Linked DNA regions of Homo sapiens. The protein of the gene in region 2 binds, or shares a complex with, the protein of the main gene of each other region. Each region holds a gene or a part of one and is shown on either strand. Other genes may lie near its edges.

Region 1 (3,600 bases), on a different chromosome or scaffold from region 2:
GAAAAAGGAAAGGTTGCCTGAAATAAGTAATACCTCAGTTTTAAAGGATAAGAGTTTATTTCCAGAGCGGGAAAAAATGCTGTTCCAGGCAAGGCTAGCTACTTATGTAAAAGGAGGGAAGAGTGATGCAACAAGGTGGTTTTGGGGACATACAATTCAGCATTGTCAGTCAAAGCCCCAAATATAAAACTACAGAAGGAAGCAGAGGGCAGATCACGCTTGACAGTATTTAACTGGGGAAGCTAGGGCTAGGTCCTATCTGACTTTGTCAGTAGCACCGCCTCTTACTTACAGCAATTACTTAATGTCTATTTATTCAGCAAACCATTAACATCTCCAGTGATTTCGGTTTTTGCCCTCTTCTGCTCACTCACCAGTCAAACAAAGAAGAGAACTAAGAAACTTGGCTACTAACCCCCTCTAACATGAGCATATTCGGAGTGATCTTGATATGGCGATTACTCCAATAACCTAATGGGTCTCCAGTTTTCATTCTCCAATTTGTTATCCACCACAGTAACTATGATTTTTTAAAGTGCACATCAGATTGTCATATTTCTGCTTAAAATGATCCAATGGCTTCCAACCGAATCATTTTAAATTGATTTGGAGTACAATCAAAACCTCCCAATACAGCCTAAGAGGTCCTGCCCAACGCCTGCTCCTCCGATACCATCTCTTAACCACTATTCGCGCAAGTGGCTATACCTTTCTGTCAATTTCTCCAAATGACCAAGCTTTCTTTCCGGCCGCAGGTCTTATGCTCCTATTCCCTGTGCTCGGTACACTCCTCCTCCTGCTCTTTAAAGGGTCGTATTTCATGACACTTAGGCTTCGAGTTAAATTCCACCTCCTAGGGAGGCCATCTCTGACTAAGCCTCTAATGTCTAACGCGCACCCTCACAGCCTCCTGTCTGCATTGTTCTTAGCACTTATTATTTGCAATTACATACTTGTTATTTTTTGACTAATGTCTGTCTTCCCCACCCAAGTGAGTTAATCTAGAGCATGGCCGTATCATTACTTTCACGGAATGAAAGTGAATTCTGGAGTGTGGTTAAGTGGGAAGTGCAAATTCTCTTTGACTTTTACCCCGACCCTATAGCCCCAACTAAGAATACCCCAGGCCCGGATTCAAACAAAGAGAAGAAGGCACGGGCACTCCTAGGAAAAGAAAGGCATCGGGAGGAGCACGCGCCTCAGAAACCTAAAAGCAGAGTGAAAGGAGCTGGCGACAGGGTGCGCGGCGCCTCACGCGGATGAATGGGAAACGCGCGAAGGAACCAGCAGGCCCCGCGAGGCTGGTCTCCCTCCTTCTCTTTCTCCCCGCTTCTCCCGCCGTTCTCTTTCTCCTTACCATCGTAACCACGGCCGAATGTTGCAGGCTACTCTCTGCCGACCAGGCCGCCGCCCGTCCCTCGTGACTACAGCAGGTACCGCAGGTCCCGAGCCGCAGTTTCAAGAGAAATGGCCGCCAAACAGGACTATGACCTTTCACCTCCCACCACGGCCCTTCCTGCCTCTGTGATTGGACGCAAAGAGGTGCGTGCTGATTGGAGGAGATGGCTGGCCCAGTATCTCCTAGCAACCAGCAGCGGCTTGGGTTTGCGCCTTGCAGGCGGCGCGCGGACCTTGGGAAACCGGCTCTGAGCATCGCTGTGAGGCAGCCAAGGACTGGAGGCAGGCCGGTGTTTTTAAATGTGGTGTCCTTCCTAGAGGGCGGTCTGGGAGAGGCTGTGTAACGGATGTGACTTCTCCCCAACTTGGCTAATGGGGATTTACTTTGTCTTTTTACACCCGTGAGAATGTTCGGGGTCCCAGAGTTCCTTCCTCACTCTTCCAACAGGTTCCATGATTTGGGGGCGCCTCTGCCGCAGGCCCTTTCTACCTGAGTGTTCTCTCTTCTGCAACACCCGTTTTAACCCCTTTTAAAGGAATTGGGGGCTAGCCAGACTAGACTAGGGGCGGCGAAACGCACTGAAGAGAGTTGGATACAGAATTTCTTGCAAACGAGGTCGAGTTGCGTCTGGGATACGGTGTCATGCCCCACCCCCGCCCCACGACCCTGCCGGCCCCACCTTTCTTTTGCTTCGCCTGCAGAAACCCGCACGGCCTTCATACGTGCATTTGAAATTACCTAAGGGCGTAAGCAATATTTCCTCTGTCACGGATTAAAACTTTCGATGTAACGGTGTTATCTGAATCTCACTAGTTTTTGTCGTAATCCTATTGAGTTCGGGTCACTCTGATCTGAAATGCTAAATGCAGTTCTTGGAGAACACGCCCTTTGGGAAGTAACGCTTTTTTGCGGCCCTGAAGAGATGGATTTGGAGTTGAGGATGAAATGTTGGGTGTTGAGGCATTGTGGAGCAGTGGGCAAGACTTTGGAGGGGGCCTGCATTCGGAACCTGCGTCTATCAGGCGCGGCCGGTGTTGGGCAGTGTCTTAACCCCGAGGGCCATTGTTTCCTCGGCAGGAACGCGGCTTTAAAAACGGAACCATCCTCAGGGTGGTTGCGAGAATTTAACGTAAAACGGGGCTTGGCCTTGTAAAAGCTCAGTGTTTCACGTAAATGTTGAACACTGACCAGACAATGATTGTCAGTGTAGTTTTTACCAAACAGTTATTAGATTTATTCACCCTAAACTTCAGTGGATTTCTCCGTTTGTCTATTGTTTTATGAACTTTAAGTCTTTGTATAGACTTTGAGTTCCTACTATGTGTCAGGCTTTTTCAACAATCGTGGAAATCTTACCTTACTGTCTGATTCGGGGTGACAGCCCCGTTTAAGAGATGAGGAAGTAGGCCCAGCAGGTAACTGTTACCAGTTGAGGGTAGCTGTCCGAGTTCTTGGCGTTTTCAACAAAGAATTGGACAAAACGCACAAACAAAGCAGGGCAGCGAAAGCAGAGATTTATTTTAAATGAAAGTACACTCTACAGGGTGGGCACCGCCTGGTGCAAGCGGCTCAAGAGCATTGGTTATAGAATTTTCTGGGCTTTAAATACCCTCTAGAGGTTGCCCATTGGCCCACAACCAGTCTGATTGGTTGCGGGAGGGGACCAATAAGAGGTACTTTCATTTTTCAACTGCCACGCAGAAAAAGGAGGGGTTGAAATGGGAGTAGCCTCTGATACCCAGTCAGCATGGATGGGCCCTAGGTTCCCTGCTTCCAGCCGCTATTCTTCTGCCTCATAGCTTGCTCAGGACCACATACCTGGGTTTCAAAACTCTGCTTTTTCTACTTCATGAAGCTACCTTTCAAAGACTCAATATGTGTTTTAGAAGCCTGACTCTTTAGCTGTTTTCTCAGTGAAGTGAAACGAAATACTACAGTAAACACATTCTGTAAAGATAGTGTATTTAAGGTTGGTTTTTCTTTTCATGTTAAATTTTTTTTTTAATTTGAGACAGGGTCTCATTCTGTCACCCAGGCTGGATTGTAGAGGTGAGATCTTGGCTTACTGCAGCCTTGACCTCTTGGGCTCAAGAGATCCTCCCACTTCAGCCTCCCGAGTAGCTGGGACCACAGGCATGTGCCACCACACCCAGCTAATTTTTTAATTTTTTTTGTAGAGATAGGGTCTCGCTGTGTTGTCC
Region 2 (3,949 bases):
CTTTGAGAGGCTGAGGCCAGCGGATCACCTGAGGTCAGGAGTTCAAGACCAGCCTGGCCAACATGGCGAAACCCCATCACTAGTAAAAATACAAAAATTAGCTGGGCATGGTGGCACGTGCCTGTAATCACAGCTACTCGGGAGGCTGAGGCAGGAGAATCGCTTGAACCCAGGAGACTGAGGTTGCAGTGAGCTGAGATCATGCAACTGCACTCCAGCCTGGGCAACACAGCAAGACTTCATCTCAAGAAAAAAAAAAAAGAAAACCTTGGAGTCATCCTCAATTCCTCTCTTTATTTCGTGCCCCATACAATATGCCAGCACAATCCTATCATCTTTTTTCAAAATGACACCCAGAACTGACCACTTCTCACCACCACCAATACCACTGCAAAGGGCTGAGCCACCAGCATCTCTCATCTGGACTATTAGAGTAATTTCCTCACTGGTCCCTCTTGTGGCTCCCACCTGGCTCAAGGTCCTCTGACTCCTGCCCAGCTCTCCTGATTTGGTCTCTTCCCCACCCTTCTCTGCTGTCTACTCTCACTCTCTCCATTTCAGTCATGGTGACTTTCATGATACCCCTCACACATACCAAGCCTTGTCCGGCCTCAGGGCCTTTGCTGTTACTATGCTTTCAGCTTGGGACACTTTCTTCTCATATCCTCATGGCTCCCTCTGCTGTCATCTCCTGATCTCTGCTTAAATGTCAACCCAGTGGCACTCCCTCTCCATCCCTCTGCATCTTCTTACCCTGTTTTCTTGTTCTTTACATCACCACCTGACATATCATGTTTTCTGGGTTTTATTTATAGTATGTCTCCACAACTAGATCAGAAGCTCTGCAGGGGTAGGGGTTTTTGTCTGTTTGGTTCACAGCTTCATCCCCAGTACCTAGAACAGTACTTGCCATAGACAAGGTGCTTTATATTTGTTGAAGGACTGAACATGGAGGAGTACAGTGAGGGATGGAAAGAGGAAATCAAAACTCACCCTTGAGCTGATTGGAAAAGACGCGTAGCAGGTCTCCCAGTGGGGGGCAGCAAGTGCACTTCAAATAGAAGACCCAGTGTAAGCAAAGCCTGACCCTCCTTCCTCTACCTGAACCTGTAGGTGCCAGAGGAGGCTAATTATGAGGCGGTCCCCGTGGAGGCCTATGGGCTGGCCATGCTGCGGGGCATGGGCTGGAAACCTGGCGAGGGCATCGGCCGCACCTTCAATCAGTGAGTTCTGGGATAGGGTCGAGGGGACAGACAGATCATCAGGCTGCAATCAAGATCCCCAGGGTCACTGCCAAACCAGAACCACCTAGGCAGGGAGGGAGGATACATTATCGCCCTAACTAATTCAGCAGCCCCTTCCACTACTGTTTTAAACTCCCATTTGCCCTTTGAAACTCTAATAGAATCCCATTTATATAAAGTTTGCCTCTAGGGACATCAATTTCCTCATCTGAAAAATGGGGGTAATAGTACTGACTTCATAGGTCTGTTGTGAGAGTTAAATGAAATTATACACATAGGCCAGGTAGTGGCTCATGCCTGTAATCCCAGCACTTTCGGAGACTGAGGCAGGAGGATCACTTAACTCCAGGAGTTTGAGACTGGCCTGGGCAACATAGGGAGGCCCCATCTCTACAAAAGATTAATTAATTTTAAGAAAAGAAATTAGGGCCGGGTGTGGTGGCTCACACATATAATCCCAGCACTTTGGGAGGCTGAGGTGGGTGGATCACGAGGTCAGGAGATCGAGACCATCCTGGCTAACACGGTGAAAGCCCATCTCTACTAAAAAAAAAAATACAAAAAATTAGCCGGGCATGGTGGCGGGTGCCTGTAGTCCCAGCTACTCAGGAGGCTGAGGCAGGAGAATGGCGTGAACCTGGGAGGCGGAGCTTGCAGTGAGCCGAAATTGCACCACTGCATTCCAGCCTGGGTGACAGTGAGACTCCGTCTCAAAAAAAAAAAAAAAAAGGAAAAGGAAAAGAAATTATATACATAAAGCACATACAGTAGGCCCTGACCCCAAGAAAGCGTAGACTAAACATTTGCTATTGTCATGCAGACTTGCAACCCTTTCTTCACAATTGCAAACTCAATAATTCTGAAAACCAAACATTTTTTCATAACCCATTGGCAGCCAAATATGACCTGAATTGGCGTTTTTTTTTTTTTTTTTTTTTTTTTTTTGAGATGGAGTCTCTGTCTGTCACCCAGGCTGGGATGCAGTGGCGCAATCTCGGCTCGCTGCGACCTCTACCTCCTGAGTTCAAGTGATTGTCCTGCCTCAGCCTCCTGAGTAGCTGGGATTACAGGCATGCACCAGCATGCCTGGTTAATTTTTGTATTTTTAGTAGAGATGGGGTTTCCCCATGTTGACCAGGCTGGTCTTGAACTCCTGACCTTAGGTGATCTACCAACCTCGGTCTCCCAAAGTGCTGGGATTACAGGCATGAGCCACCATGCCCAACCATGTTGAGTATTTATAATCCGGTTTCTCCTGCTCGGTGTGAATGTTCATATGATTTCCCCTGTAGAAATAGTATATTTGGTTACAGCGATCTGCCTCTGATCTCACTGTAGATATTATGTAATAGATGGTATATGCAGCATGTTATTAGGTTGAACCAAATGAAATTGCTGTTTCTGTAGGTCAAAAACAGTCCTAATATGAGATCAGAAAGGGCAACCTTGAAAATATTGGTGGGGGCTGGACACGGTGGCTCACACCTGTAATCTCAGCACTTTGGGAGGCCAAAGAGGACGGATCACCTGAGGTCAGGAGTTCAAGACCGGCCTGACCAACATGGTGAAACCCTGTCTCTACTAAAAATACAAAAATTAGCCGGGCATGGTGGCATGCGCCTGTAACCCCAGCAACTCGGGAGGCTGAGGCAGGAGAATCCCTTGAACCTGGGAGGTGGAGGTTGCATTGAGTCGAGATCGAGCCATTGTACTCCAGCCTGGATGACAAGAGCAAAACTCCATCTCCAAAAAAAAAGAAAAGAAAAGAAAATGTCAATGGGGCGGGTGGGGCGGGTTTGGGCAGGAAGAGGAAGTAAATAAGGTGTTGAAGACTGTTGCATCCTCTCCAACAAACCCATATTCCTCCCTGCAGAGTAGTGAAGCCCCGTGTCAACTCACTGAGGCCCAAGGGGTTAGGGCTGGGTGCCAACCTGACCGAGGCCCAGGCCTTGACCCCCACTGGCCCCTCCCGCATGCCAAGACCAGATGAGGAGCAAGAGAAAGATAAGGAAGATCAGCCTCAAGGGCTGGTGCCTGGAGGAGCTGTGGTGGTTCTTTCTGGCCCTCACCGAGGCCTCTATGGGAAGGTAAGGAACCAAGATATCCCGGGAGCCCAAAACAGGCAGCAGGGAAGGTTGATCCGAGGGTCAGATGGAGGAATAATTGGATTTGAGGTAGAAAGGCTGGGACTCCTAGTCTTTTAGGTCTGCTTGGCCCACTGCCTCACTCAGTAACCCAGGACCACTTGCTGGCCTTTGTGAGCCTCAGTTCCCAGCTAAAAGGAAGAGAATGCCATATGCCACAAGTCCCTGAAGATTAAATGCTTAAAGGATCCAAGGAAGCCCCACAGTCAGCTGAGGGAGACACAGGAACCAGACCTGGTCCCACTTCTCAGGGGTCAGAGTCTGGTTGGGGAGACAGAGGAAGCAGGCCTCTTAGAGGTAAGGGGTTGACATCTTGGTCCTAGGAATGTGGGTGGAGTCCACAACCCCTACCTGACTTCTTCCCCTCAACACTTTAGGTGGAAGGCCTTGATCCTGACAATGTTCGGGCCATGGTTCGTCTGGCTGTGGGGAGCCGGGTGGTGACTGTTAGTGAGTACTACCTGCGGCCTGTCTCCCAGCAGGAGTTTGACAAGAACACCTTGGATCTCAGTGAGTGAGCCTCTTGTAGAGCTAGGGGAGTTGGCAACGCATTCCTAGGGG

Evidence for each region.
Region 1: GPKOW (region 2) and SNRPF share a complex: the UniProt entries of both Homo sapiens proteins name them as parts of the minor spliceosome.

What each region holds. Positions count from the first base shown.
Region 1 is NC_000012.12:95,856,834-95,860,433, reverse strand, and holds the start of SNRPF (small nuclear ribonucleoprotein F), read right to left. Parts: upstream 1,483-3,600; 5' UTR 1,361-1,482; coding exon 1,358-1,360; intron 1-1,357. UniProt on the Homo sapiens protein: Plays a role in pre-mRNA splicing as a core component of the spliceosomal U1, U2, U4 and U5 small nuclear ribonucleoproteins (snRNPs), the building blocks of the spliceosome.
Region 2 is NC_000023.11:49,116,979-49,120,927, reverse strand, and holds part of GPKOW (G-patch domain and KOW motifs-containing protein), read left to right. Parts: intron 1-1,113; coding exon 1,114-1,223; intron 1,224-3,117; coding exon 3,118-3,331; intron 3,332-3,765; coding exon 3,766-3,898; intron 3,899-3,949. UniProt on the Homo sapiens protein: RNA-binding protein involved in pre-mRNA splicing. As a component of the minor spliceosome, involved in the splicing of U12-type introns in pre-mRNAs.